2 separate regions of the Homo sapiens genome follow, and region 1 is linked to region 2. Evidence: fine-mapped expression QTL. A gene starts in region 2. The other region holds a variant in brackets. All regions are shown on one strand. Distances are from middle to middle. Region 1 holds the start of PRC1-AS1 (PRC1 antisense RNA 1). Region 2 holds the start of PRC1 (protein regulator of cytokinesis 1).

Region 1 (16,863 bases), 26 kb after region 2:
AAGGCTTAGGGAAACACTGATTTCAAGGGAGTGGGTGAGGGTAGTCCCAGCCACCTCTTTGAAGGGGGCCAGCCCCTCCACACCTGTGGGTATTTCTCATCAGGTGGGACAAGAGACAGAGAAAAGAAATAAGACACAAAGTATAGAGAAAGAACAGTGGGCCCAGGGGACCAGCACTCAGCATACAGAGGACCTGCACCAGCACCGGTCTCTTGAGTTCCCTCAGTATTTATTGATTACTATTTTCACTATCTTGGCAAGGGGAATGCGGCAGGAGGACAGGGTGATAGTGGGGAGAAGGTCAGCAGGAAAACGTGAGCAAAGGAATCTGTGTCACAAATAAGTTCAAGGGAAGGTACTGTGCCTAGATGTGCACGTAGGCCAGATTTATGCTTCTCCCCACCCAAACATCTCAGTGTAGTAAAGAGTAACAGAGCAGCATTGCCGCCAGCGTATCTCGCCTCCAGCCACAGGGCAGTTTTCTCCTATCTAAGAATAGAACGAACATAGGTACGTACGATCGGGTTTTACACCGAGATATTCCGTTCCCAGGGGCATGCAGGAGACGGAGGCCTTCCTCTTTTACGAATCCTCCTGAGCACAGACGACGGGTGTCGGGCTGGGGGATGGTCAGGTCTTTCCCTTCCCACGAGGCCATATCTCAGGCTGTCTCAGTGCGGGGAAATACCTGGACAATACCCAGGCTTTCTTGGGCAGAGGTCCCTGCGGCTTTCCGCAGTGCATCGTGCCCCTGGTTAATCGAGAATGGAGAATGCAGATGACTTTTACCGAGCATACTGCCTGTAAACATATTGTTAACAAGGCACATGCTGCACAGCCCTAGATCCCTTGAACCTTGATTCCATACAGCACATGTTTCTGTGAGCACAGGGTTGGGGCTAAAGTTGCAGATTAACAGCATCTCAAGGCAAAACAATTTTTCTTAGTACAGATCAAAATGGAGTTTATGTCTTCCTTTTCTACATAGACACAGTAACACTCTGATCTTTCTTTTCCCTACCTCTTGCCCTCTGTCCTGCAGAGATGGGAAAGGGTTTTTCTGTCCCTGCATGTCGAGTCCACTTGAGTGGATGGAAGGCTGAGTAGCGGCCTATAGTGACAGTCACGGAGTGGCCAGCTTTGGTGTCTGTGCTTGTTGCGTCCTTGCATTAAATTCGGGGTGCGGTGGGGGAATGATTGCCAACATTCTGGTAACGATGAAAAGAAAGCTTCAGCAGTTTTCCTGAAAACCTGTAATGCCATTTTCCCTGTAAGACCAAGAGATGGCCTTGTGGTACCATGTGAAAAACAACGTTCACGCTTACTAAATGGAAGATGTAATAATTCTTCATCTCTACAGCACAGTCAGAGAGGACTTTTTTTTTTTTTGAGATGGAGTTTCGCTCTTGTTGCCTAGGCTGGAGTGCAATGGGTGATCTCAGCTCACTACAGCCTCTGCCTCCTGGTTTCAAGCAATTCTCCTGCCTCAGCCTCCCAAGTAGCTGGGATTACAGGCATGTGCCACCACACCCGGCTAATATTGTATTTTTAGTAGAGACAGGGTTTCTCCATGTTGGCTAGGGTCTTGAATTCCTGACCTCAGGTGATCCACCCACCTTGACTTCCAAAGTGCTGGGATTACAGGCGTGAGCCACTGTGCCTGGCCTACTTTTTTCTTTTTGATAAATAAAAGAGTATTATTTCTTCTCTCTACTGCTATTTTATAACATTAAATTTATTATTTTTAGACAGTGTCTTGCTCTATCACCCACACCGGAGTGCAGTGGCGCCATCATGGCTCACTGCAGCTCAGCCTCCTGGGCTCAAGTGATTCTCTAACCTCAGCCTCCCATGTAGCTGAGACTTACGGGCACATGCCACCATACCCGGCTAATTTTGGGGTTTTTTTTTTTGTTGGTGGTGTTTTTTTTTTTTTTTTTTTGAGTTTCAGTAGAGATGAGGTCTCACTAAGTTGTCCAGGCTGGTCTCAAACTCCTGAGCTCAAGTGATCCTCCTGCCTCAGCCTCCCAAAGTGCTGGGATTACAGGCATGAGCCACTGTGCCTGGCCTAAAATGTGTTTTTTTTGGTTTTGTTTTTTTGAGACGGAGTCTCGCTCTGTTGCCCAGGCTGGAGTGCAGTGGCGCAATCTCAGCTCACTGCAACCTACACCTCCTGGGTTCAAGTGATTCTCGTGCCTCAGCCTCCTGAGTAGCTGGGACTACAGGCCCGCGCCACTATGCCCACCTAATTTTTGTATTTTTAGTAGAGATGGGGTTTCACTTTGTTGGCCAGGATGGTCTCAATCTCTTGACCTCAGAAGATCTGCCCGCCCCAGCCTCCCAAAGTGCTGGGATTACAGGCGTGAACCTCCACCTCCCGAGTAGCTGGGATTACAGGCATGTGCTACCACACCTAATTTTGTATTTTTAGTAGAGACGGGGTTTCTCCATGTTGGTCAGGCTGGTCTCATACTCCCGACCTCAGATGAGCCACCGTGCCCGGCCCCCTAGAATTTTTTTAATTAAAAAAAAAAAAAAAAAGTGTTGGCTGGGTACAGTGGCTCAAGCCTGTAATCCCACTACTTCGGGAAGCCAAGGTAGGGGGATTGCTTGAACTCAGGAGTTGGGAGACTAGGAAACATGTTGAAGCCCCATCTCTACTACAAATACAAAAATTAGCTGGTTGTGGTGGCACACGCCTGTGGTCCCAGCTACTCAGGAGGCTGGGGTGGGAGGATTGCTTGAGCCCAGGAGGTCGAGGCTGCAGTGAACCAAGATTGTACCACTGTACTCCAGCCTGGGTGACAGAGTGAGACCCCATCTCAAAAACATTTACAGCTCTTATCATTAGCATATAATAAGTTTTGACATATGTAGGTTTATACAATGAAACTGTCACCATAATTTAGATAATGAACATTTCATGGTCCCCAAAGTTTCCTAGTGCCTCTTTGTATTACCTCCCTCCTTCCCTGGCTCCTAGTTTGCCCCCAGCCTCTAGCTGTGGCGAGTAGGGATTTAGTCTTTAACTAACTATAGATTAGTTTTCATTTTGAAACATTTTACATAGAATCCCGCAGTACATATTCTTTTTTGTCTGGCTTCTTTCATTTAGTGTAGATTCATCTCTGTTGCTGTATGTATCAAAAGGTCACTCCTTTTTATTGTAGATCAATATTCATTCCACTGTATGAATTTACCACAGTTTGCTTGTCCACTTACCTGCTGATGGGTATTTGGCTGTTGCCAGCTTTTGGCTGCTGCAGGGAGCTGTTGTGAACATTTACGTCTAAGTCTTTGTATGGATCTATGCTTTCATTTCGTTTGGGTAGAAACATCTAAGAGTGGAATGGCTGGGTCATATGCTAGATGTCTTGTGCCACAGTGGTTGTACCATTGTACACTTCCATTTGCTGGATAGCAATAGGCTTTGAAAATTTTTCACAAGTTACTTCAAATCTATGCAGTATTAGACACAGCAGGCCCTTCACCATGTAAACCCGTCTTCCCTAGACTGCCTCCTCCCATAGTCATTTCTCTGTAGGGTAGACAGGTTGCTAGAAATGCTGAGGATGTTACTGCACATCAGTTACCCACGTGCTCTTCTCCCTAGCTGAACACTACCACCATGTCCAATGCTACGGCCAATAGTAGCATTCGGCCTATCTTTGGAGGGACAGTCTACCACTCCCCCGTGTCTCGACTTCCTCCTTCTGGCAGCAAGGTTAGTATGCCCTGTGTCTAAGCACATCCTCACATGCGTCCCTAGCCTGTTCACCCAGAGGCCCCACCTACTTGTTCTAGATTCTAAGATCCCTGGATTTGGTTCTTATTGAGATGCTGAGAGTTGACAGATATAAGCTAGCTCACCATTAAATAATGGTCCAAAACTAACGTGCAAAAAAAGAGAACAGTCACTCTGAGCCCCACTGGTACCATGGGAAGCACTGGGATGTGTCTGGGAAACTGAAGATCAGGCAGGGTCGCTGTAGACTCAATTCCAAGCCCAGTCCTCAGCTGGTATGGAGATAGGTCCCCTACATGTGGGTTCTAGCCCAGTGAAACCAGATCACTAGACATGCCAGGTACTCAGTAGAGATGTGGAAAGTATGTGGCAAAACACATTCAGTCTTTCAAATATTTTATTAGACTATGCTCAAGATAGGTGTTCTGTAAATCAAGAATTCATATTTAAAAAAAATTTTTTTCTAGAGACAGTGTTTTGCTATGTTGCCCAGGCTGGTCTCGAACATGTCGCCTCAAGCAATCCTCCTGCCTTGGCCTCCCAAAGTGTTGGGATTATAGGCATGAGCCACACCCAGCCCCATATATATATATATATATATATATATATATATATATATGTTTTTTTTTTAACTAAAAAGTATAGGATTATAGACATGAATATAAAGATAGTCTCAGCCTTTGACCAGTGCAGGTATTGTGTGTGCGTGTGCACGTTCATTAGAAGGATGATACATGGATCTCTTTCCTTTCTCTGCAGCCAGTCGCTGCTTCCACCTGTTCAGGGAAGAAAACACCCCGTACTGGCAGGCATGGAGCCAACAAGGAGAACCTGGAGCTCAACGGCAGCATCCTGAGTGGTGGGTACCCTGGCTCGGCCCCCCTCCAGCGCAACTTCAGCATTAATTCTGTTGCCAGCACCTATTCTGAGTTTGCGGTAATTCACCTTTTCTAATATCTACCAGTCTCTGGGGAGCACACAGTTGGGGCAGAGTGGGTATCTTCCCAGGGGCACCCAGGCTATTAGCTAGGGCAGCTACCTTGGAGGCTGAGAATCCCTTTCCTGCTTTGACCATGGCAGGGTGGGTGTGATTTAAGGGGGGGTTGTGTAGGAAGGAAGTTGGCAGCAGCAACTAGACATTTAACCTGGATCCTTCTGCTTAATACATACCATTCCCTGGCTGCAGGAGGCAACCCCTCTATCACTGTCCTGGTGCTCTCTTGGTGGAGTTCTTGGTAATTGTCTTAATTCTTTGTTCTTAGAAGGATCCGTCCCTCTCTGACAGTTCCACTGTTGGGCTTCAGGTCTGTATGGCAATCCCTGCATGTCCCTTTTCCAAACTGATCTGTCATCTGCTGGCTTCATTCATCTGGGCACAGGGCTACACTAACTAATAATCTCAGCAGTGTTACAAAGGAAGCAGGAATTCCTATCATGGACTCAAAAAAACACATCTGATTTACATTCACAACAGATTAATTAATAAAATTTGTTCAGACTTGAATTGGATTCTCAGCCCCTAAAGTCAGGCACAGTTTTAAATCACGTTTAACAGAAAACCTTGACCCTCCCCAATTGTGACATCAAAGGCCTGCAATAGCTGGAAAGAATAGAGGCCCCCAATCACATGGGGAAGGGAGCCCCAGCTGTGTGCTGCCTACAATGAGGCTCTTGGCCTGTGTGCTGATTATTTCCTGGAGTATATGCCTTCCTAACCCCTCAGGGCTTAACCGCCAGCTCTATTCTCAGCTAGCTAATGCTGATTTCCTCACCTTTGCCTCTTTCCATACATTGAGCTACTGAAGCATAGATGAAGCACTGGAAGCAAGTTTTTCCAGAATGCTCTTCACTTCCTAGTATCCTACTCTATATTTGCTAACACCTAACTACACTGCCTTTTACTTAATCTGTGATTTCTTCTCTCAATATTTTACTAGCAAGAGGAGAGGATGTTCCTCACCCTTGAGGGGATATTGAGTTAAACCCCTAGCCTGCCTCCCCTCTTAATTGCTGCAGGGATAGAGAATGGAACAGTTGGCCAAGGCTGCAGCTAGTTTTGATCACTGAAACTGGCTTCCTACTCCAGCATGTTTTTCAAATTACGTGGCTGGTGGTGCTTCTACCTTTAAAAGTGGGTGTGTGTCACTCTGGCTGATTGCTGGACAGAGGTCCAGCTTTCTCTTTTTCGCTTGTTCAACCAAGGCCCATTTTATCTGAGGCTTAAATGTACCTGCCTATCTGTGTGGCTAGTCCTAGGTAGGTTCGTCTGGTTTGGGTTGCTATGGCTGATAGACTCCACCAGGCAGCACCAAAGCCGGTAAACTAACCTCTGCTAATATCTGTCTTTCTCAATAGCCATTCATGCTTTATCTTTTGCTGCTCTACCATGTGCTCCAGCATGAGATCAAATCACCAGCAGGTTACAAGGCCTCAGCCCCAGGGATTGGTAGATATATGTTCTGGCCCATTGTTTTATAAAGGGCTCAAGAGACCAAAGCTTGTTGCCTACTTACCTTGACAACTCTAAAGTAGCTCTGTGAAGTAGAGTCATGCCTCGCTTAATGACAGGGATATGTTCTGAGAATGTGGGGCAATTTCATTGTGCACATATCAGAGTGTACTTAACAGTCCTAGACAGAACAGCCTACACACCTAAACTATATGGTATGGCGTTTTCCTCCTAGGCTACAAACCTGGGCAGCATGTTACAGAAAGAATACTGTAGGCAATTGTGGGTTTTTTTGATTCAGGCTATTCCTGGGATACTGTAGGCAATTGTAACGCAATGGTAAGTATTTGTGTATCTAAACATAGAAAAGGTACAGTAAAAATATGGTATAATCTTATGGGACCACCATAGTGTATGTGGCCTGTCGTTAACTGAAACATCATTATGCAGTGCATGACTGTATGAAGGATTTCTCTTCTGTGAGGTGTAACAGAATGGACTGGCTGAGGAAAAAGGGGTCACGGGCATGCGTGCACATGCACTCTGTCTGTGACTAATAGAATGGTGCTCAGAGTTCCTCACCTTTTACTCCTAACGCAGCCTATTGCAGGCTAGGGATCTCAGAGAAACTACCTTCAAGGGACCTTTTGCTGACACTTAACCAAACTTAGAAGGGTGGGCCATGTGTAAGAGAGGCAGTATGGCCACTGATGTTATTTATTTTTCAACAGCGAGAACTTTCAAAGGCTTCCAAATCTGATGCTACTTCTGGAATCCTCAATTCAACCAACATCCAGTCCTGAGAAGCCCTGATCAGTCAACCAGCTGTGGCTTCCTGTGCCTAGACTGGACCTAATTATATGGGGGTGACTTTAGTTTTTCTTCAGCTTAGGCGTGCTTGAAACCTTGGCCAGGTTCCATGACCATGGGCCTAACTTAAAGATGTGAATGAGTGTTACAGTTGAAAGCCCATCATAGGTTTAGTGGTCCTAGGAGACTTGGTTTTGACTTATATACATGAAAAGTTTATGGCAAGAAGTGCAAATTTTAGCATATGGGGCCTGACTTCTCTACCACATAATTCTACTTGCTGAAGCATGATCAAAGCTTGTTTTATTTCACCACTGTAGGAAAATGATTGACTATGCCCATCCCTGGGGGTAATTTTGGCATGTATACCTGTAACTAGTAATTAACATCTTTTTTGTTTAGGCATGTTCAATTAATGCTGTAGCTATCATAGCTTTGCTCTTACCTGAAGCCTTGTCCCCACCACACAGGACAGCCTTCCTCCTGAAGAGAATGTCTTTGTGTGTCCGAAGTTGAGATGGCCTGCCCTACTGCCAAAGAGGTGACAGGAAGGCTGGGAGCAGCTTTGTTAAATTGTGTTCAGTTCTGTTACACAGTGCATTGCCCTTTGTTGGGGGTATGCATGTATGAACACACATGCTTGTCGGAACGCTTTCTCGGCGTTTGTCCCTTGGCTCTCATCTCCCCCATTCCTGTGCCTACTTTGCCTGAGTTCTTCTACCCCCGCAGTTGCCAGCCACATTGGGAGTCTGTTTGTTCCAATGGGTTGAGCTGTCTTTGTCGTGGAGATCTGGAACTTTGCACATGTCACTACTGGGGAGGTGTTCCTGCTCTAGCTTCCACGATGAGGCGCCCTCTTTACCTATCCTCTCAATCACTACTCTTCTTGAAGCACTATTATTTATTCTTCCGCTGTCTGCCTGCAGCAGTACTACTGTCAACATAGTGTAAATGGTTCTCAAAAGCTTACCAGTGTGGACTTGGTGTTAGCCACGCTGTTTACTCATACAGTACGTGTCCTGTTTTTAAAATATACAATTATTCTTAAAAATAAATTAAAATCTGTATACTTACATTTCAAAAAGATATAGTGTGGTGTTTCCTTTTTTTCCCCAGTCACTTTTTAGTTGGTTGGTCT[G/T]TGTGTGAAAAACAAACACAAAAAACTAAAAGGACCTCCTGGAAATTTTTAGTCAGGAGTGTGATTTTTTTTTTTGAGTCTCACTCTGTCGCCCAGGCTGGAGTACAGTGGCACTATCTTGGTTCAGTGCAACTTCCACCTCCCAGGTTCAAGCGATTCTCCTGCCTCAGCCTCCCGATTTGCTGGGATTACAGGCACGCACCATCACACCTGGCTAATTTTTGTATTTTTAGTAGAGACAGGCTTTCACCATGTTGGCCAGGCTGGTCTTGAACTCCTGACCTCAGATGATCTGCCTGCCTCCCAAAGTGCTGGGATGACAGGCATGAGCCACAGCACCCGGCCGAGTGTGATTTTTAAAATATTCTCTGGTACATTTCTAAATTAAGAATATCTCTTACTCTAATTTTTTGGTGAGAAATATAAAACCTAACCCCTGATGTGTAGAGAGCAAAGGGAGTCCTAGGATGCTTCTGGCTTCAATGCCGTTTGTCTCAATATGGGGAGGCTGCCCAACTTCAACAGCGTTACTGAAGGAGGATGGACATAAACTGCACACATGTGAAGCGTAAGAGAAAAACCATCGCCACAGTCCAGTTAACCAAGTCTCTCTACCCCAGCAGTTCTTCCCACCCCTTTCTCACTCCTCCTTCCCAGCCTCACCCTGCCGAGCAACCACTGATTTTTTTTTTTTTTTTTTTTTTTTTTTTTGAGATGGAGTCTCGCTCTTGCCAGGCTGGAGTGCAGTGGCACAATCTCAGCTCACTGCAATCTCTGCCTCCCAGGTTCAAGGGATTCTCCTGCCTCAGCCTCCCGCGTAGCTGGGACTGCAGGCACGTGCCATCACGCCTGGTAAATTTTTGTATTTTTGGTACAGACAGACAGGGTTTCACTGTATTAGCTAGGATGGTCTCGATCTCCTGACCTCATGATCCGCCCACCTCGGCCTCCCAAAGTGCTAGGACTACAGGCATGAGCCACTGTACCTGGCCCACCGATTTGTTACTACAGATTAGTTTGCGTTTTCTACAGTTCGATGTAAGTAGAATCATACAGTATATATTTTTTTGGTCTGGTTCTTTCACTACTTTCAGATTTACCCATATTGTTGCTTATATCCATAATTCTTTTTTTTTTTTTTTTTTTTTTTTTTTTTTTTTTTTGCTTAGTATTCCATGGTGTTGATATACCAGTTTATTCGCCTGTTAGGTTTATTTTTCACATTTGGCTTTTCTCCAGTTTTTGGCTATTAAAAACAAGGCTGTTATAAACATTCATGTACAAGTCTTTGTATGGATATATTTTTTTTTCTGGATAAATACCTAGGAGTGAAATGGCTGGATCACATCTATGGTATGTGTACACTTAACTTTTTAAGAAATGCCAAACTGGGCCGGGCATGGTGGCTCACGCCTGTAATCCCAGCACTTTGGGAGGCTAAGGTGGGCAGATCACGAGGTCAGGAGTTCGAGACCAGCCTGGCCAACATGGTGAAACCCCATCTCTACTAAAAATACAAAAATTAGCTGGCTGTGGTGGCACACACCTGTAATCTCAGCTATTCAGGAGGCTGAGGAAGGAGAATTCCTTGAACTCAGGAGGCGGAAGTGGCAGTGAGCTGAGATTGCACCACTGCACTCTAGCCTGGGCAACAGAGCAAGACTCCATCTTAAAAAAGAAGAAATGCCAAACTGTTTTCCAAAGCAGTTGTACCATTTTACATTCCTACCAGTAATGTATGAAGGTTCCAGTTTCTCCACATCTTCACCAACAGTTGGTATGTTCAGCCTTTATGTAATTCTAGTTATTCTGTGTATGGAGTGGTGTCTCACTATGGTTTTCATTTACAACTCCCTAATGACTAATGATGTAGAGCATCTTCTCATATGCTCACTTGCTATCCTTCTGTCGTCTTTGTTGACTTTTGTCCATTTTAAAAAATGGCTTGGCCAGGCATGATGGCTCATGCCTATAATCCTAGTACTTTGGGAGGCTAAGGCAAGTGGATCGCTTCAGCCCAGCAGTTTGAGACCAGCCTGGGCAATATGCAACAACCCCATCTCTACTAAAAATACAAAAAACTAGCCAGATGTGGTGGCACGTGCCTGTAGCCCCAGCTACCCGGGAGGATGGCTTAAGCCCAGAAGGTGGAGGCTGTACTCCAGCCTGGACAACAGAGAGACCCTGTCCAAAAAAAAAAAAAAAAACCCACAATGAAATACCACTTCACACCCATTAGGATGGCTGTTAACCAGAAATAGAAAACAAGTGTGGACGCGGATGTGGAGAAATTAGGATTTGTGTGCACTTCCAGTGGGGATGTAAAATGATGCAGCCTCTGTGGGAAACAGGGCAGTTCCTCAAAAAAATTTAGAATTACCACACAATCCAGCAATTCCACTCTGGGTATATATCCAAAAGAACTGAAAGCAGAGACTCAAGAGAGTTGTACACCCATGTTCCCAGCAACATTATTGACTGTAGTGAACAACTCAGATATCCACCAATGCACGGATGAATAAAACGCAGTGTATACATACAACAGAATCTTAGCCTTTAAAAGGCAGGAAGTCTAGATACATAAGCTACATCATGGATGAACTTGGAGGACATGCTGCTAAGTGAGATAAGCCAGTCATAAAAAGACAAATACTATGGGATTTCACTTACATGAGGCACTTACAGTATCATAGGAACAGAAGGTTAGGACTGTGGTTGCCTGGGGCTGGGGAAGGGGAGACTGACGAGTTAAGTGTTTAATGCACAGAGTTTCAGCATAGAATGATGAAAAAGTTCTGGAAATGCATAGGGGTGACGGTTGCACAACAGTGAATGCATATAATGTCACTGAACTATGTACTTAAAATGGTTAAAAACAATTTTTGTTTTTTATTGAACATAAATTTTATGTTCAGTATATTTTACCACAATAAAAAAGACCCCATGGGTGGGAAACATTTGCTAAACCACAGACACACACATGCACAAATAGAATTTAACTATAAAGAAAACTACTGATAAGCTTATTTTATCAAAATAAGTTGATACTTGTAAAGCACTTTGAGCCTTACCTGGCATGGAGTAAGCATCACCTAAGTATTAAAATTGGTAATACCAAGAGAGACTGAAACAAACTACATTGTAGCAGAAGATACTCTGAATACTAACTCTCAAAAGACTTGTATCTGAAATATCCAAAAGAAAAATCACTAAGGAAAATACAGAACATTTTAAAAGGCCAGAAAACTTGAACAGGCACTTGACAACAGAAAAACTCCAAGTGGCCAATAAACATATGAACTCTTCGCCTCAAGCAATCTCCCTGCTTAGCCTCCCAAAGTGCTGGGACTACAGGTGTGAGCCACCATGCCCAGCCATCCAAAACAAATGAAAAGCTACTCAACCTCATCAGTATCCAGGGAAATGCCAATTAAAACCAGTGTGCATCTACCTGACATTTTAGCCACAGTAGACCCCACCCTGCTGGGGGCAACAGTTATCTAGTAAAATTAAAGGTATCTCCTGACTTAGCAATTCAACTCAATGTTCTGCAAAGGAACTTGTGCACATGTGCAGAAGACTGCACAAAGAATTATGTGGAATGACCAAAATCAGAAACAATAAAAATGACCATCAACAAGGCTGTATCACTTGAGGTATTATTCATACAACAGAACACCATATAGCATTAAAAATGAACTCCAGGACCCAACAAGGATGGATTATACAATGCTGAGTGACAAAAACGACACAAAAGCACATACACAGGATTCCATTTATCTAACACTCAAAAGCAAACACAACTATGTCGTATAAGGCTGCATACAAGAATGGTAAAATTCAAACGAAAGCAGGGAAATGACTGACAGAAGACGATGACCTGGAATGTGCCCCAATCTCAGCTGCACATCAAATGTACCTGGGATGAGGTGGGTGGAGCTTTGAATCTACCACTATCCAGGCCACACACCTAGAAGCTCTGGTTTCATTGTTTCATTGATTTCATTGTTTTGATTGATGCTGACCTTAGGCAGCAGAGTTTTCAATGCTCTCCAGGTGTTTCTAAAGTGCAGACAAGTTTAGGACCGTGCTTGAGGGTGAAGGGCAGGACTGTGATGGGGAGGGGCAAATATGGGGCCCTTGGGGTGCAGGCAATGGTTTTCCTTGACCTGAATGGGGGTCTCACAGGTGTTGCATATACATATACGTACACATGTCAGCTCTTCCCTTTCTCCACAGCATACACGTAGGTGTTCCACGGCCCACAGGTGACAGCCTTTACTTGGAGTTGCTTATCTACAAAGTATTCCACACGGCGAGGCCGATCCAAGCTGGTGGTGTCCTCGTGGCCCAGCTGTCCATATTTACCTAAAGTGAAATCAGCCCCTTTGCCATCGTCTCCACTGGGTCTTGCTGCTGCTTTCCCTCCAGGAAGGGGCCCAGACTATCAAATGAAGTGCTGGGATTATGCCCCACTGCTCTGTGAATCCAAGAGACCCAGAGCCAGGCAACCTTGGGGATCCCCAAGAGGCTAGTGGCGACCAGCCACTCCAGGCAAGACGCTCCTCCAGACTTCCCTGCTATCCAAGCTAAGATGTTCAGAGCACACACTTCCATCGAATCTTTTTCTCCACCCAGTGTCACATCCACAAAAAGCTGCTTTGTAAGTGCTGGTTGGATACTCCCTTAAGACAGTCTTTCAGAGAGGTAGGCGGGTGGTACCGATATCCTCTCCATGTCTCCCCTGTCTGGCCTCGGACTGAGCGCGCCTATGTCTGTTCCAACCCCAGGGAGGGAGCAGTCCTGTTCCTCCCAGTGACCTGGCCGAGGCCCCTGCTTCCTCCAGTCTTGTTGGCTTTGTCACCTGCCCTGTACTCCCAGGTCTTTCTTCTCCTTGGTTTCAGGGTCACAAAAACAATCCTTTTACTTACCCCAGCCCCAGGTGTAGAGCTCCCCTGTTCCTGAAAGCAAAAGGACAATCGATAGTTGTCACTACGGTTCTTTGGCAAGGCATCTGTCCAGCCCAGCTTGGCACAGCCCACAGCTAGCATATTACAATCCTCATGAGATCTGCCTGGCATGGAACAACATATTCTCTTAACAACTGGCTGATCACACGTGGCATGGCAGAGGATCCCGAGGGAAAAAGTGGCGGATCTTCCTGTGTGCCATGCTACCGAGCGCCGCAGTCTTCCATGCCAGACTGGACAGTCCCTGCTGTCAGAGGCGGCGGCGGGCAGGGAATGTGTCTGTGGCCGTGCAGGGAGGACAGAAAGCATCAGCCTCCCACCAGAAGGAAGAAACTTCTGGGCCTGACAGGCTGGGGAACTACTGTGAAACAACAAGGGGGTTGGGGCTTATCCACTGAGCAAGGTAGCTGCTCTGTATGAGCCACAGAAGCCTTAAGACAGAAGTTTTTCCGTCGACCACACCCCCTTCCGTAGGCACCAGCTCGAGTGGAGCAGAGTGCCTCCCAGCCCCACTCACGTGTCACCACAGCTGTGTGCCGGGATCCACAGCTGGCCTTGACTGCATCTGAGCCCATGGGGAGATCCAGTAATGCCGGGAAGGGCTGGACAGCTATGAAGGGGGCAGGGGCTCCATCCTCAGCCCCACCCGTTCTCTTCACCTGAGAACCATCTTCATTCAGTTCTGTGGCTTCAGAATGATAATAATGATGTGAACACCAACTGAGCCCTGAGCTAAATCTTATTCATGCAGTCACTTATTGCCACAACAGCTCTGAGGTACACGACTGCCTAGCTCCAAAGCTGGTGCTCCCAACCCCTACATTCTGCAGGCAGGGCTGGCACTGCTGCACAAGTGTGTTGTGCCAAGACCGGCATCAGCCTTGCCAATGCTCCCTCCCATAAGGGGCTCACATGCTCCATCTGAGCAGTGTAGCTCTGAGGCCAGCATACAGCCAGGAGTTAGGAATGACAGCCACATCCTGGGGAGACGGCTGTGGGAGCCGAGATGACCCTCACCTTCCCTTGCGACAGTCTCTCCATCCTCTGCCAGGTTCCTGGTGGGCAGGGCCAGCTGCCCTGATTCATTCCAGCCCCAGATATAAATATCCCCAGTCTCTGAAAGAGATCAAGGGGACACATGAAACAGACTGTGAAGCCCCTGCATCCATCCAAACTCTCCTCCCCATCGCATCCGCTCCTGGGGACAACTAAAGCCTGCCCTGCCCAAGGTAGCACTCCAGGCCAAGGCGCTTCCCCTCGGGCCCCAGGGGCTTGTCTTAGGTTCACATCCCCTCAATGCCTTCAGATCACCCTTTAAGTCCCTTACTGGACCTTCTACTTCCATTCTTATGCTGCCAAATAGCCCCTCATTTCAGAAATGTATCCCTAGAAGTACCGCAGTGGTCTCCCTTTCAAAACCACTGGGCCAGGGCCAGGTGCATTGGTTCATGCCTGTAACCCAGCACTTTGGGAGGCTGAGATGGGTAGATCACTTGAGCTCAAAAGTTCGAGACTAGCCTCAGCAATATGGCAAAATCCCTGTCTCTAAATAAGTAAATAAAACAACCACTGGGCCGGCCTGTGCCCCTTTTTCAACTGCACCCACAGCCGGTCCTGATGAAAGCCACGTGCAGCTCTCCCCTTCCTGGCCTCCCACAACACTGGAGCTTTTTGGTTGGAACAGCTGCCTAATTCTAAAAATTTCTAACAATAGCTGCTTTATGAAGTGCTTAATCCATGCTGATGTTTCACATGCTTTTCAAATATAATCACTTAATTCTCACAATAGCCCTACAGGTGGTTTTATGACAATATCACCATTTACGCAGGATCCCTATTTTATTCACAACTGAGGCACAGAGGGGGTTAAGTACCAGGCCCGAGGTCCCAGGGCCCGAGCAATGATCTGAAACTAGGAAGTCTGGTGGGATGTGTCCGTGCTTCAGCCTCTACACTAAACTTAAGGCCTCAAACTCCTTCTGGACCTTGAGTGCAGGGCGTCCCACTGGGCTGTTTCCAGCCCTCTGGTCTCTCCAGCCCAAGGTTGGGGTTTTTTTTTTTTGTTTTTTTTTTTTTTTTAGACAGACAGAGTCTCACTCTGTCACTCAGACTGGAGTGCAGTGGTGTGATCTTGGCTCACTGCAACCTCCACTCACGCGTGGCTCAAGTGATCCTCCAGCCTCAGCCTCCCGAGTAGCTGGGACCACAGGCACGAGCCGCCACGCCCAGCTCATTTTTATATTTTTTGTACAAAGACGAGGTTTTGCCACGTTGGCGAGGCTCAGCCCAGGGTTTCCTGAGCTTGGCAACCAGCCCAGGCCCATTCCATGAGAATATGGTGTGGAGGAAGGCACTGGTAGCTTTTCTTTTTTTTTTTTTTTTTTTTTTGAGACTGAGTCTCGCTCTGTCGCCCAGGCTGGAGTGCAGTGGCACGATCTCGGCTCACTGCAACCTCTGCTTCTCAGGTTCAAACGATTCTCCTGCCTCAGCCTCCCGAGTAGCCAGGACTACAGGCGCACACCACTGCACCCAGCTAATTTTTGTATTTTTTTTTAGAGACGGGGTTTCACCATGTTGGTCAGGCTGATCTCGAACTCCTGACCTCGTGATCCACTCACCTCGGCCTCCCAAAGTGCTGGGATTACAGGCATGAGCCACTACGCCCGGCCCCCTGGCATTGGTAATTTTTTAAGCTTCCAGGTGATCTACGTAGCAGCCAGAATGAGAGCCCCAGACACAGACAAAGATCATCTGTTCCCAGCCTCACCCTCTCTGCATGGGCTCTAACAGCCTAGGAAGGAGCTACACCTGGATCACCAAGTGAAACTCCTCACTCTGGCCAGCTGTGGCACCACCACAGGGACACACTCATCACCATCCTGGTGCCTGGTGGGCACCCCAGTGTCCACCCTGTGCCACACATCATGGCCCCCTAGGCAACTGCAGCGTTTCTGCGTTTTCCTTGGCTCAGCTGCCCCCTCACACTCCATACTCCCTCGGCAGCACTGTTAAGAGACAGTCCTGGCTGGGAGCAGGTGGGGAGAGGAGGGGAGGGGCAGTGAGACCAGTAACAGAGAAGCTAGGAACAAATGCCAGAGTCCAGGCGTGAGTGGGCCATGGTGCAGGCAGAGGAGGCCGAGGGTGAGAGGCATTTAGGAGTCATAACTGACTGGGCGATGGATGGATGAATTTGGAAGGAGGCCTGGGTAGGCCCCCACCCAAACTGGAAAACGAGGAGGAAGGTTTGCACAAGATCATGAGCTCGTCTGGAGAAGCACTAAGTCACTCACCACTCACACACACAGAATGCCAGCCCCCCGCGGCCACCTCAGCCATGACTAGGCCCTGCAACGCCTCCAACAGCCGTGGCTCCAGCTCTGCCTCCAGGGTCCCATGGCCCAGCTGTCCATGCCTGAGCAAGGGAGACCGTCGTCAGCTACAGTCGCATTAAGGGGTCCCGCTCCGCTTGCTTCTCCAATCAGCAGCCCTCACCTGCCCCCGCCTCCGCTCACCTGCCCCCGCCCCAGGAGAACACCTGGCCAGCAGCGTCCAGCAGCAACGCGTGCTCGGCGCCCAGCTCCAGCTGGCGTGCCCGCAGCTCCGGAGCCAGAGGCCGGTAGAAGGGCGCCCGCGGGCTCACGTAGGCACGGGCGCAGGGCAGCAGGGGTAGCCTCCCAGCCTGGGCCTCACCGGCCGGATCGTCTTCCCCTTCGGCCTCGGGCACCACATTCTGGGCCCACAATGGCTCCCC
Region 2 (13,235 bases):
GTCGTTCTGGACACGCACTTCCATCTTTATTAGTGAAAGCCCATTGGAGCTTGCTACAGGGGCTTCCTGTGCTTCTTGGCCTGGACTTTGTAGTGGCTCCAGGCCTGGTCTGGTTCTTCCCTGTAAAAATCACTCTACCACTCTGTACCTGAGTTTCCTCTACCATAAAATGAGGGAGATGGCTGAGGTGACCAGCAAGCACGTTTCCAGTTCTAAAATGTTGTGATTCATTACATTTTTGAGAAAATGACTTTGTTGTTTTAATTTAAGGAGGCACTTCAATTTTAAGCGTTTGTTTCTTATTGCAGAATGAAAGATTGTGTGCCATTAGAGCCATTTCAGGCATCAGCAAACAGTGCTCCTATAAATGTGCCAGCACCCTCCTCATTACTGATGCTAGTAGCCTTTCTCTCTCTCTTTACCTTTTAAAAATGATGAAATATAGGCCAGGTGCTGTGGCTCATGCCTGTAATCACTGCACTTTTGGAGGCCGAGGCAAGAGGAACGCTTGAACCCCGGAGTTTGAGACCAGCCTGGATAACATGGGAAGACCCCGTCTCTACAAAAAATAAAAAAATTAGCCGAGGGTGGTGGCACACACCTGTATTCCTAGCTACTGGGGAGGCTGAGGTGGGAGGATCCTTTGAGCCCAGGAGGTCGAGGCTGCAGTAAGCTGTGACCTTGTCTCAAAAAAAAAAAAAAAAAGAAGGAATTACAACCACCTATATTAGTGGCCTCTTTTCAGGCCTCTTCCAACTTGATCTCACTGATGACTATGCTTTCCTTGAAATTGTCTTATTCAGCTTCCATAATACCCTTTCTTTGTCCTCCCACAGTCTCTTAGGTTGTTCTTTGATTACTCCTCTCTGCTCATCCCATTTGCTGACATCTCCCCTCTCTCTGTCCTTTGTTGTCATCCACTTCCAGATCTCAAGCCTTCATCTCACTCCTTAGCGCCACACAAGTATTTCCTACCTGGTCATTCCACAGGCACTTCAAACTCAGCATGTACAAAATAAACTCATGAGTGGAAGCTCCTGTCCCTACTTGAATCCTTTAATCTGCTCTTCTTCCTGTATTCCCAAACTTTGTTCAAATGAGCAAAAAATTGTATTCTTGACCTCAGATTTTTTCTTTCTATGCCCCACCTTCAGCTGGTTCCCTTGTGCTATTGGTTCTTATTTCTAAATGTCTCTAGTTCATCTTCTCCTCACCATCCCTACGACAGAGGTCTTTATTGTCTCTTGCCTGGGTTTTTGCAAGAGTGTGCCTCCCAGCTGCTCATTCTTCCATCTGTTCCCCATTCCACAGTGCTGCCACTTACTAAAAGGAAGAAAGAAAATCAAAACCTGAGTTACTGGATCATCAAAAGTATTCTTCCTATAGAATAATGATCATTCTGGGCCCCGCACGGTGGCTCACACCTGTAATCCTAGCACTTTGGGAGGCCGAGGCAGGCAAATCACTTGAGGTCAGGAGTTTGAGACCAGCTTGGCCAGCATGGTGAAACTCTGTCTCTACTAAAATATAAAAATTAGCCAGCTGTGGAGGCGCGCACCTGTAGTCCCAGCTACTCATGAGGCTGAGGTGGGAGAATCGCTTGAACCCAGGAGGCAGAGGCTGCAGTGAACCGAGATCATGCCACTGGACTCCAGCCTGGGCAACAGAGCAAGACTCTGTCTCAAAAAATAAATAAATAAATAAGAATAATGATAATTCTGTATAAGAATATATTCCAAGGAAAAGGCATTCCTCAAGCATCTAGCTAGAATTTTGAGTGTTATGTCAAGCTAGTGTGCAAGACCAAAGACACTGCCAACAGGGCTGTTAATTCACAGAAAGAATAGGTGGCATCAGAAAAAGATTAAACAGTGGCAAAACATTGCACTTCCATCCAGTAGAAATATATGACCCTGTAATAGGATTTTTTTTTTTTTTTTTTTTTTTTTTTGAGAAAGGGTCTTGCTTTGTCGTCTAGGCTGGAGTGCAGTGGCGTGACCATGCCTCACTGCAGCCTTGACCTCCTGGGCTCAAGTGATCCTCCCACCTCAGCCTCCCAAGTAGCTGGAACTACAGGCTCATACCACCACACCTGGCTAATTTTTGTATTTTTTATAGAGACAGGGTTTTGCCACAGTGCCCAGGCTAAGGTCATATATTATAAACGCGTATTACACAGTGTTTTACATGCTGCGTTTATGCTCTGAATGGATATCTTTGCATCAGTTCTATGACTTTGTTAGCCTCAGCACCTCAGTGTAAAGGACAAGAGAGAAAAAATTGCCTTTTCTTTGGATACTTCATAATGCTGGTGCTAAGAACAAGTATGAAGATCACAAATTTGTGAAGCTTTCTGAAAAGCTCTCCTGTTAATTTAATCAACAAAGAATGCAAGTAAATTTTAAAAGTAGTGCTACCATCTACTCTATTAGTGGTGTCAATGTTAATCACAGAGTGCAAGGAAATTGAAAAAGTGGTGCCTGTCGCCCACTGTGTTGGTGCTGTGAATGTTTGGCATGCTGCTGACAAGTTAAAAAGAACATGGAAGCCGGGCGCGTTGGCTCACGCCTGTAATCCCAACACTTTGGGAGGCCGAGGCAGGCGGATCACCTGAGGTCAGGAGTTCAAGACCAGCCTGGCCAACATGGCAAAACCCCGTCTCTATTAAAAATACAAAAAAAAAAAGTATCCAGGCATGGTGGTGCGTGCCTGTAGTCCCAGCTACTCGGGAAGCTGAGGCACAAGAATTGCTTGAACCCAGGTAGCGGAGGTTGCAGTGAGCTGAGATTGGGCCACTGCACTACAGCCTGGGTGACAGAGCGAGACTCCGTCTCAATTAAAAAAAGTAAAAAGAACATTGAAAGCACTAATGAAGTTTTTCTGAAAATAAGAAAAATATGGTTCTGAAGGTGAAGCAAACAAGCATCCTTTACCTTTAGGGAAAAGGCATATGAAGAGGATTCACTTAAGTTACAGTTGGCCAATAAACACGAAAAATGTGCAATTTCAATTATAATCAAGTGCCAAACAAGGAAATGCCAGTATTATTATTTTACCTACAAAATGAGCAAAGATGTTTAGAAGTACAATAGAATTCAGCCCTGCTGAGGGTAACAAAAGGAGGGTACTTTTCCGGTGAGGCTTTGTGCAGAAGGCAAATTAATAAAGGGAGCATTCAGTAATTACACCTCTAGGAATCAGCCGTACGAAAATGCAGGATGCATTTATAAATACATACATACACAAAGATTTATGTATGAAGATATTCAGCCCAGCCTTATCTTTTAAATTATCATCTAAATATCAATAGCAGAATGGGCGAGATATCTACACACCAGGATTCATGCCACCATGCCACCATGAATCACTGGGAAAAAACGGTGATATATAAGCATTTAGGGATGTAACATGTTCATCGAGGAAAGGAGGCTACAAAAGTAATGTCTATTTTGAGTTTTAAATTTTTCATGTAACGATTTAGAAACTCATCTAATTTGATAACGTGACTTAGGCAAATCATTCAAATCTTTTTGCGTTTCCTCTGCAATGGCGATTGTGGAGGTTAAATGGGATAACTGGCGTTGAAACGTTCCAGGCCCATGAGCAGGACTCAATGTTCCTTCCCTTCCCCTTTAGTGTATGGCTTCTTACATCTGGGGAAGAGTCCCACCAAAGATCGATTCCAAGCTTCGCTTCTTGGATGAGCGAGGGAAACTAGGCGCTAACTTACCTATTCACCCCCGCGCCCGTTCCCGGCAGCCGGGACTCAGGGAAGCCAGGTAGCCGCGGTGCTCTCAACTCCCTCCCCGCCCGCGCACTTCGAATCCAAACTGCGCGGGGCGAGGCGGGGCGGCGCTCCGATGAGGTAGCTGGCTTGGGAGAGGAGTCCCTTGAGGCTGCCGCCAAGCCAGGGAAGCGGGAGGCGCAGGCCACGCCCGGCCACTCACAGACAGTGACGTCATCCCCCGCCGCCACTCCGGCGCTTCCCAGGCCCTGCTCGCGAGTCCCCACCCCGATTGCGCACCCGCGACTTCAGCCCGAGGGGCGGGGATTTTCTTGGAGCGACGGGACGCGACGCCAATCGCGACGAGGCTTCGCCCCGTGGCGCGGTTTGAAATTTTGCGGGGCTCAACGGCTCGCGGAGCGGCTACGCGGAGTGACATCGCCGGTGTTTGCGGGTGGTTGTTGCTCTCGGGGCCGTGTGGAGTAGGTCTGGACCTGGACTCACGGCTGCTTGGAGCGTCCGCCATGAGGAGAAGGTGCGGGTTGCGGGGAAATCGAGGGGACGCGGGAGGGAGCGACGCTCGTTTCGGCTGCGGGGCCTGTTCAGGGGTGCGGGACCCGTGCGGGGTCCCGGGCCTAGATCGTCACGGCAGTCGGCGCCGAGGGAGGCCGGGGGCGCTGAGGGGCAGGGTCTGGAGGCGGCGAGCCAGTGCGAGGGCCGCGGCGGTGAGACCTGACGCGCTGTCCGCCGGCGGCCGCAGGTGCCCGCAGGCTCAGACGCCCGGGTGGGAGCCGAGCGCCGGTGCCCGGACGCGGCAGGGTAGTCGAGGCCCGGGGCCCGGGGCGGCCTCCACCCAGGCGGTCAGCGCTGGCGCTCGGACCCCACCCTCCCCGCCCGCAGCGTCTCAGGTGCCGCTGCTTGGCGCAGATGACTCGTTGTAAACCTTCTGTGGTCGTGGCTTTTCTTTAAAGCTGTTAAGTTTATTTATCGTTGTTTTTCTTTGTTTTATTCTTTTTTTTTATTTTTGTGGAAACGCGGTCTATGTTGGCCAGGCTGGTCTCGAACTCCTGGCTTCAAGTAATCCTGCCACCTCGGCCTCCCAAAGTGTTGGGATTACAGGCGTGAGCCACCGTGCCCGGCCCGTTGTTTTTCTTTATATCTGGCCAGCGGTGTTAACGTTTTGTTTGAATTGGAAAGATAGCTTTGTTTCTTTGCAAGTTAAGAAACGGATTATGGAATTCTTTTCCGGTCGTTTTAATAACTTCCTAGGCGGTGTTGGGGAGGGACTGTCCGACTTGAAATCGGGACCAGACGGTGACACTGCCACTTACCAACCTTGTGACTTCCAAATATTAACTTTATTTTCTAAAAGTTGTGGATGCAGTTTTCTGATGATACAGCGTTAAATAATGTGTAGTTTTTGGTGGAACTGATTGTTCTAAGGCTTTGTAAGATTCTTCATTTCATGATCACTAATTCTGATCAGTCTTTTTAAAATGCTTGCCCTCAGAATAATGAGAATTGAGTGCCAACATGGTAAAACCTTGTCTTAACTAAAAATACAAAAATTATCTGGCCCTGGTGGCGCGCCTGTACCCCCAGCTTTTCAGGAGGCTGAGGCAGGAGAATCGCTTCAGCCTAGGAGGCAGAGGTTGCATGAGCCGACATCTCGACACTGCACTCCAGCCTAGGCGACAGAGTGAGACTACGTCTCAAAAAAAAAAAAAAAAGTCCATTAACAGTTTATGAATTATGTAGGCATCTCCTCTATCAAGGGATTGAATGAAGCAGGAGAAAACTTACCCTTTAATGTTGGTTCCAGGCTAATGGATATAATTAACTTTTTTTTTTTTTTTTTTTTTTTTTTTTTTGAGACGGGGTCTCACTCTGTCGCCCAGGCTGGAGTGTAGTGGCGAGATTGCTCACTGCAGCTTTGACCTCTGAGGCTCAAACGAAACTCTGGCCAGAATTAATTATGGTTATCGATCCCCGAAACAGGTTGAACTGGAGATCAACAAAGCTCCTTCTCTGGAATGCTAAGAAAAAATAGGGCAGTGGATCAGTGAAGGCTGCCTGAAGGTAGAAAATAATTTAAGGACCACTGTGAGATACCTTCCAGTCCAGTGATTTATGTTCAAGACTGGAAAAACTGACTCATTTTACAACCTTTTTGTCCTTGAGTGGTAGTCTTTGTATGCACTCTTGATTTTTTTCAGTGAATCTAAAAAAAAAACTCAGACTTGCTGCTTTTAGGGGATTATCTGAAACAATTTAGCCAGGGAGTATTTAAGTGTATCATGATAATTGTTCATAATGATTGCTCTGAAGCATCTTAAGATCATACAACTTTTTTGAAATGTCACGTTATTCATTCAAAAAGACTTCTTGGGCCTGGCACAGTGGCTCACACCTGTAATCCCAGCACTTTGGGAGGCCAAGGTGGGAGGATGACTTGAGCCCAGGAGTTCAAGACCAGCCTGGGCAACATAGCAAGACCCTGTCTCTATTTAAAAAATAATAATTTATACTAAAAAAGAAAAGAAAAATACTTCTTGAATGTTTGTTATATACAAGGAACCATTGCAAGTGTTGGGGATATAGCAGTGAGCAAAAGTGACATCCCTGCCCTCACAGAGTTTATATTCTAATAGCAAAAGAGGAGTGTAATAAATAAGTTAGTCTTAAATGGTGGTAAGTGCTATGTAGAGAAATCAAGAGGTTAAGAAGTACTGAAGGTGTAGGAAGGGGGGTTGTGGTTTTAAAGAGATGGGTCAGGAAAGGCCTCCCTGAGAAGGTGATCTCTGAGCAAAGACCTAAGAAGGAAAAGGGTGAAGCCATGCAGCATGGGGGAAAAGAGATCTAGGTAGAGGAATCAGCAAATCCAAGTGCCCTAAGGGGAGATAGCGCCTGGTATGTTCCAGAAAGAGCAAGGAGGTCGCTGTGACAGGAATAGAATGAGCACTGAGGTCAAAAGAAATGGCTTTCAGATGGAATGGGGCTCCATAGGTCTTTGGAAAGTCAGAGGCTTTTCCTTAGAGTGAGATGGCAAGTCGTTGGAGGGTTCTGAGTAGAAGATTAGGACTTGGGGCTCCTGTGTTGACAATGGACTTAAGGAGGCCAGCTTCGAAGCCGGGAGACCAGTTAAGAGGCCCCTGCCATACAGCAAGAAGTTGGTGGTGGTGACCTGGACCAGGGTGGGGGTGGTAGTGGTAGCAGCAGAGGTCAGGAGGAGTGAGATTCTGCCTGTCTTGTGTAGATAATGCTAATGGCGGGCATATAAGAAAGAAGTGTCAAGGATGATACAAGATTTAAGTTTAAAAAAAAAATTAAGTTCAGTACAATTTGAATGTTAGGAAGAGTGAGAAATGTTAGTTTTTAATTTGAAAATGATCCTCTTACAGGAAGTGTCTCTAACTAGAATAATAATAATGGGTGTTTGGTAATTCCAAACACCCATTTCCAACAGGCCAAATAAAATACGTTATATATTAGTAAAATTTTTATTTCTTTTTTTTTTTGGAGACAGTCTTGCTCTGTTGCCCAGGCTGGAGTGCAATGGCATGATCTCAGCTCACTGCAACCTCCGCCTCCTGGGTTCACCGGGTTCAAGTGATTCTCCTGCCTCAGCCTCCTGAGTATCTGGGATTACAGGCACCCACTACCACGCCCAGCTAATTTTTGTATTTCTAGTAGAGATGGGGTTTCACCATGTTGGCCAGGCTGGTCTCGAGCTCCTGATCTCAGGTGATCCGCCCGCCTTGGCCTCCCAAAGTGCTGGGATTGCACACGAGCCACCGCGCCCGGCCATAGTAAAAATCTGTAAGTTTTTCAATTAAGTCACAAATCAAAAACATTTCAGATTATGGGCCGGGCACAGTGGCTCACGCCTGTAATCCCAGCACTTTGGGAGGCCGAGGCGGTCGGATCACGAGGTCAGGAGTTTGAGACCAGCCTGACCAACATGGTGAAACCCCGTCTCTACTAAAAATACAAAAATTAGCCGGGCGTGGTGCCGTGTGCCTGTAGTCCCAGCTACTCAGGAGGCTGAGGCAGGAGAATCGCTTGATCCCAGAAGGCAGAGGTTGCAGTGAGCTGAGATCACACCATTGCACTCCGGCCTGGGTGCCAGACTGAGACTCTGTCTCAAAAAAAGAAAAAAAAAAGAAACCAAAAATGTTTTAGATTATGTGCCAAGATGTTTTTAATAACAGCTTTGAGGTATAATCCACATACCATACAATGTACTTAAATTGTATATTATAATTCAGTGATTTTTAGAATATTCAGAGTTGTGCAATCATCACTGCAATCAATTTTAGAACATTTTTATCACCCCTTTAAAATCCCATTAGCAGTCAATCCCCTTTCACCCCATGGTCCAAATTCTCCCCAGCCGCAACTACAAATCTACTTTTCGGCTAGGCAAGGTGGCGCACACCTATAATTCCAGCACTTTGGGAGCCCAAGGTGGGAGGACTACTTGAGCCCAGGAGTTCAAGAACAGCTTGGGCAACATAGAGAGACTCTACCTCTTAAAAAAAAAAAAAAAATTATTTATTTATTTATTTATTTATTTTATTTTTTATTTTATTTTATTTTATTTTTTGAGATGGAGTCTCACTCTGTCACCCAGGCTGGAGTGCAGTGACGTGATCTCAGGTCACTGCAACCTCCACCTCCCGGATTCAAGCAATTCTCCTGCCTCAGCCTCCCGAGTAGCTGAGATTACAGGTGCCCACCACCACACCCAGCTAATTTTTGTATTTTTAGTAGAGACGGGGTTTCACCATATTGGCCAGGCTGGTCTCAAACTCCTGACCTCGTGATCCGCCGGTCTTGGCACCCAAAGTGCTGGGATTACAGGAGTGATCCACCGCACCCGGCCTAAAAAAAAATTTTATTGTTTAAGTTAGCTGGGTGTGGTGGCTCACATCTGTAGTCCCAGCTACTCCGGAGGCTCAGGTGGGAGGATCACCTGAGCCTAGGAAGTTGGGGCTGCAGTGAGCCATGATCATGTTACTGCACTCCAGCCTAGGTGAAAGAGGGAGACCCTGTCTCAAAAAACCATACAAACCCCAAATCTACTTTTTACCTATTCTGGATATTTCATAAAAACGGAACCGTAGCTCTGGTCTTTTGTGACTTGCTTCTTTGACTTAACATAATGTTTTCAAGGTTTATTGCCAAATAATATTCCATTGTATGCCTATATACTACATTTTATTTACCCATTCATAAGTTGATGGCCATTTGTATTTTTTTTTTCACTTTTTGGCTATTATAAGTAATGCTGCTATAAACAGTTGTGTAGTTTTTGTATAAATGTGTTTTCATTTCTTTTGGGCAAATACCCAGTAATAAAATTGCTGAGTTGTATGAACTCTGTTAAACTGAGGGGCCGGGTGCAGTGGCTCATGTCTGTTATCCCAACACTTTGGGAGGCCGAGGTGGGAGGATTGCTTGGGCCCAGGAGTTCAAGACCAGCCTGAGCAACATGGCAAACCTTAAAAAAAAAAAAAAAAAAAAAAATTAGCCAAGCACGATGGCACGTCTATGGTCCCAGCTACTTGGGAGACTAAGGTAGGAGAATTGCTTGAGCCCAGGGCGTTGAGGCTGCGTTGAGCTATGATCACACCACTGCACTCCAGCCCAGGTGACAGTGAGGCCCTGTCTCAAAAAACAAAAAATCAATTGAGGAACTACCAGACTATTTTCCAAAGAGGCTGTACCGTCTTGCATGCCCACAAGCAGTGTCTGAGGGTTCTAGTTCCTCTAGATTCTCACCAATACTTTTTGCTATATATTTTTTTTTATTATACCATCCTGTTGGCTATGAAGTGGTTTTGATTTGCATTTCCCTAATGACTAATATTGAGCATCTTTTCATGTGCTTATTGGCCATTTTTATATCTTCTTTGGAGAAATGTCTATTCAGATTCTTTGCCCATTGTGCTAGATTTTTTTACTCAGAAAAACGATCACTTTACCTTCTAGATGTGTTACAGAGATAGGCAGCCCTGCTTGTAAACCTTCGTCAGGATCCAGAGTGCATAATACCTCTATTAGGTTAGGTAGGTTAGGAGCATAGGACCCTTTGGGAGGAATTCAGGGCCATTCATTTTATATCTATTGAACAACTACTGTGAGTTAGGGTGTGGTAAAATGAAGATGAATAAGATGTGGTGGTCCTTGCCCTTGAGTTTATGGTCTACTAGGGGGCTTGGGGGGAATGGTGAGTGACAAGTCCACAGCTCTCCAGAGGAGGTGGTGGCATATAGACGGAACTGAATGTACAAAGCGCGGTGGCATCAGAAAATGAGAGTTGCATGTGGTTTATTGAGGGGCATTGTTCAGGAAATGCCCGGGAAGTTCAGCTGGCCAGAGACCTGGGGAGTGTCAAGTGGGAGAGATTAGCAGACAGACTCGGAGAGAGGTTTTAGAAGGCCTTTCTACAGAAGGTGGTTGAACTATTTCCTGAGGGCAGTGGAGCCTTTGAAGGGGAGTAGTTAAGCGGGGATCTGATGGGATTTATTATGAACAACTAGCTGTTATGTGGAGATTGGCTGGGCAGGGGTAGGTCTGTCAGACTGAGGAGACTGGGATACTTAAGTAATGACCTTCAGAGCAGTGCCCCTGGCTGGCCTGTCTGGAAGCCAGGGTTTTGCATCCAGATCGAATATTGGCCACAGATTGGATCTTAAAAGTTATTTTTAATAAAATGGTAATATTAGGATTTTAACTTGTGCATTCTTTTGTCTTCAAAATGAAGTGCAAAAGGAGTGTTTGCCTGGGGAAGCTCTTTAGTTGGACTTTAGTTGAGATTATGTTAAATAAATGCCTTACTTACTGTTAACATTTCTCTTTTTTTCCTTTAAGTTCTGTTGGACTTGAACTGTTAACATTTCTAAAGTGAAGGGAGTACCGTAAATTCTTTTAAACGTTTGTCAGTATTTGGGTATTGGTATGGCCATCTGGTATAGGCAACAGGTATTTGTGTAGAAATGTTTCTTCAACAAGGACGGGCAACCTCTAAACTAGGATTTCGTGGCTGGAGATATTTTGGATGTGAATGTATTAACAGCTTTGGAGAGACACATTGTTAGAGATCCAGGCTGGTGACTTGTAGAACCACCGAAAGCTCTGAGACAGAAAGGGGCTAATGAAAGTCTCTAGTTGCAGTTGGGTGTGGATGGCACACAAAGACCTTAAGTGTTTAGGTGATTTGCTGCAGGCTTCTCGGCCGACTGGAAGCAGAGCACATCTAGATTGTAGTTTCTCTGGTGCCAGGGCAGTCTTAGTTGTCCTGTTATACCTAAGAAAAGGGAGAAAAATTTCTATTCTTTAAATGTTCTGTAAAGCAGACTAATTGTGATAATTTTTAAAGTAAGCTGTTCTTAAAAGATAAGATACAGAAGCCAGTTAAATTTGTATTTTAGATAAATAATTTTTTGTTAAAATAAGCTTTTGGTAATTGAAGAATAACATACATTCAGAAACGTACAGAAATCAAGTGTAAACTCAGTGAATTGTTCACAGTTGATGCACCTGTGTAAGCAGCAACCCAGAAGCCCTCTACCAGTCACTGCCTCCCCTGAGCCAAAAGAACTACTATCCTGACTTCTGAAAGCATTGATTAGTTTGGCCTGGTTTTGTTTTTGCTTTTTTTGTTTTCGTTTTTGAGATAGGGTGTTGCTTTGGAGTGCAGTGATCATAGCTCACTGCAGCCTCATCCTCTCAGGCTCAAGCAATCCTCCCACCTCAGCCTCCTGAGTAGCTGGGACTATAGGCATACGTCACCGTGCCCGGCTAATTTTTTTTTTTTTTTTTTTTTTAAGACGCAGAGTCTCACTATGTTGCCCAGAATGATCTGAAACTCCTGGGCTCAAACAGTTTTCCTGCCTCGGCCTTGCAAGGTGCTAGGAATACAGGCGTGAACTACCGTGCCTGGCCAGTTTTGCCTGTTTTTGAACTCTCTGTCAACGGAATCACATAGTGATACACATTTGCATATCTAGTGGCATTTGCTCAGCCTAAAGTGTTTTTTTTTTCCTTCCTCTTCCCCTTACAACTATTTTTTAGTTGTTTATTTTACTTCATTAAAAAAATGAAAAGATTTGAGGTATAATTCATACACAGTAAAACAGACTCGCTTTACAGGTAGTTTCAATTGTATACTGTTGTATAATCGCCATCAAGATCTAGAACTATTTCATCACCCCAAAAAAGTAAAATAAATAAATAAATAAAATAGAAATATAATAATTTGAGCTTTATCCATATCATGTGTAGTGTGTTCATTTTCTTTTTTGACAGTTTCGCTCTGTCGCCCAAGCTGGAGTACAGTGGTACAATCTTGGCTCACTGCAACCTTGGCTCACTGCAAACCCTGCCTCCCGGGTTCAAGCGATTCTCCTGCCTCAGCCGCCCCAGTAGCTGGGATTACAGGCGCACCACCACACCCAGCTAATTTTTTGTGTTTTTAGTAGAGACAGGGTTTCCCCATGTTGGCCAGGCTGGTCTCCTGACCTCAAGTGATCTGCTCCCCTCGGCCTCCCAGAGTCCTGGAATTACAGGTGTGAGCCACTGCACCCAGCCAGTTTGTTCATTTTCATTGCTGCATTAGTGCATTGTAGGAATGTACTATTCATTCTGTTGATAGACATCTAGGCTGTTTCTGTTTCCCTGCTATTATGAGTAGTGCTTCTCTAACCATTCTCATATATGTCTTTGGTGAACGTATGTGTTCATTTCTGCTAGGTATGTATGTAGAGGTAGAACTGCTGGGTTCAGCTTTAGTAGATAGACTGCCAACAGTTTTTAAAATAGTTGTACCAATTTACACCATGCCAGCAGCATATGAAAGTTCTCACTTTTCTATATACTCACCAACACTTAATGCTGTCTTTTTAACTTTAGCCATTCTTTGAGCTGCTAGTTGTAATTTAAGAAGAATAGGCCAGGCATGGTAGCTCACGCCTGTAATCCCAGCAATTTGGGAGGCCGAGGCAGGTGGATCACTTGAGGTCAGGAGTTCGAGACCAGCGTGGCCAACGTAGTGAAACCCCATCTCAATGGCTTTTTAACTTTAGCCATTCTTTGAGCTGCCGGTTGCAATTTAAGAATACTAGGCCCGGGCGCAGTGGCTCATGCCTGTAATCCCAGCACTTTGGGAGGCCGAGGTGGGTGGATTTTTGTGTTTTTGTAAAAATACAAAAATTAGCTGGGTGTGGTGGCACACACCTGTAATCTGAGCTACTTGGGAGGCTGAAGCAGGAGAATCACTTGAACCTGGGAGGCGGAGGTTGCAGTGAGCTGAGATCTCACCACTGCACTCCAGCCAGGGCAACGGAGCGAGACTCTGTCTCAAAAAAAAAAAAGAAAATAAAAATAAATAAATTAATTAAATAAAATGGCAAGGCACAGTGGCTCACATATGTAATCCTAGCACTTTGGGAGGCCGAGGAGGGCGGATCACTTGAGGCCGGGAATTCAAGACCCACCTGGCTAACAT

Evidence for each region. PIP is the estimated chance that this variant, and not a neighbour inherited with it, causes the effect.
Region 1: its variant is fine-mapped to the expression of PRC1 in thyroid (GTEx, PIP 0.96).

What each region holds. Positions count from the first base shown.
Region 1 is chr15:90,957,265-90,974,127 of GRCh38, reverse strand. It overlaps RCCD1 (RCC1 domain containing 1), which reads right to left. Exons shown (of 8, transcript NM_001017919.2): 3 at 16,625-16,863; 4 at 16,403-16,524; 5 at 14,130-14,228; 6 at 13,630-13,800; 7 at 13,074-13,103; 8 at 11,003-12,510. The coding sequence ends at 12,359. PRC1 (protein regulator of cytokinesis 1) reads left to right here. Exons shown (of 15, transcript NM_003981.4): 12 at 3,614-3,724; 13 at 4,505-4,681; 14 at 5,008-5,049; 15 at 6,926-8,088. The coding sequence ends at 6,997. It overlaps PRC1-AS1 (PRC1 antisense RNA 1), which reads right to left and starts at 7,759. Exons shown (of 4, transcript NR_051984.1): 1 at 7,450-7,759. The variant G/T (reference allele first, on the strand shown) is at 8,143.
Region 2 is chr15:90,985,431-90,998,665 of GRCh38, reverse strand. It overlaps PRC1 (protein regulator of cytokinesis 1), which reads left to right and starts at 4,131. Exons shown (of 15, transcript NM_003981.4): 1 at 4,131-4,259. The coding sequence starts at 4,249. It overlaps LOC124903556 (a long non-coding RNA gene), which reads right to left and starts at 3,887. Exons shown (of 2, transcript XR_007064759.1): 1 at 3,731-3,887; 2 at 1,041-1,323. It overlaps PRC1-AS1 (PRC1 antisense RNA 1), which reads right to left. Exons shown (of 4, transcript NR_051984.1): 4 at 10,042-11,036. It also overlaps a transcript of VPS33B not described here. RefSeq lists enhancers at 3,091-3,957, 3,958-4,825 and a silencer at 4,375-4,594.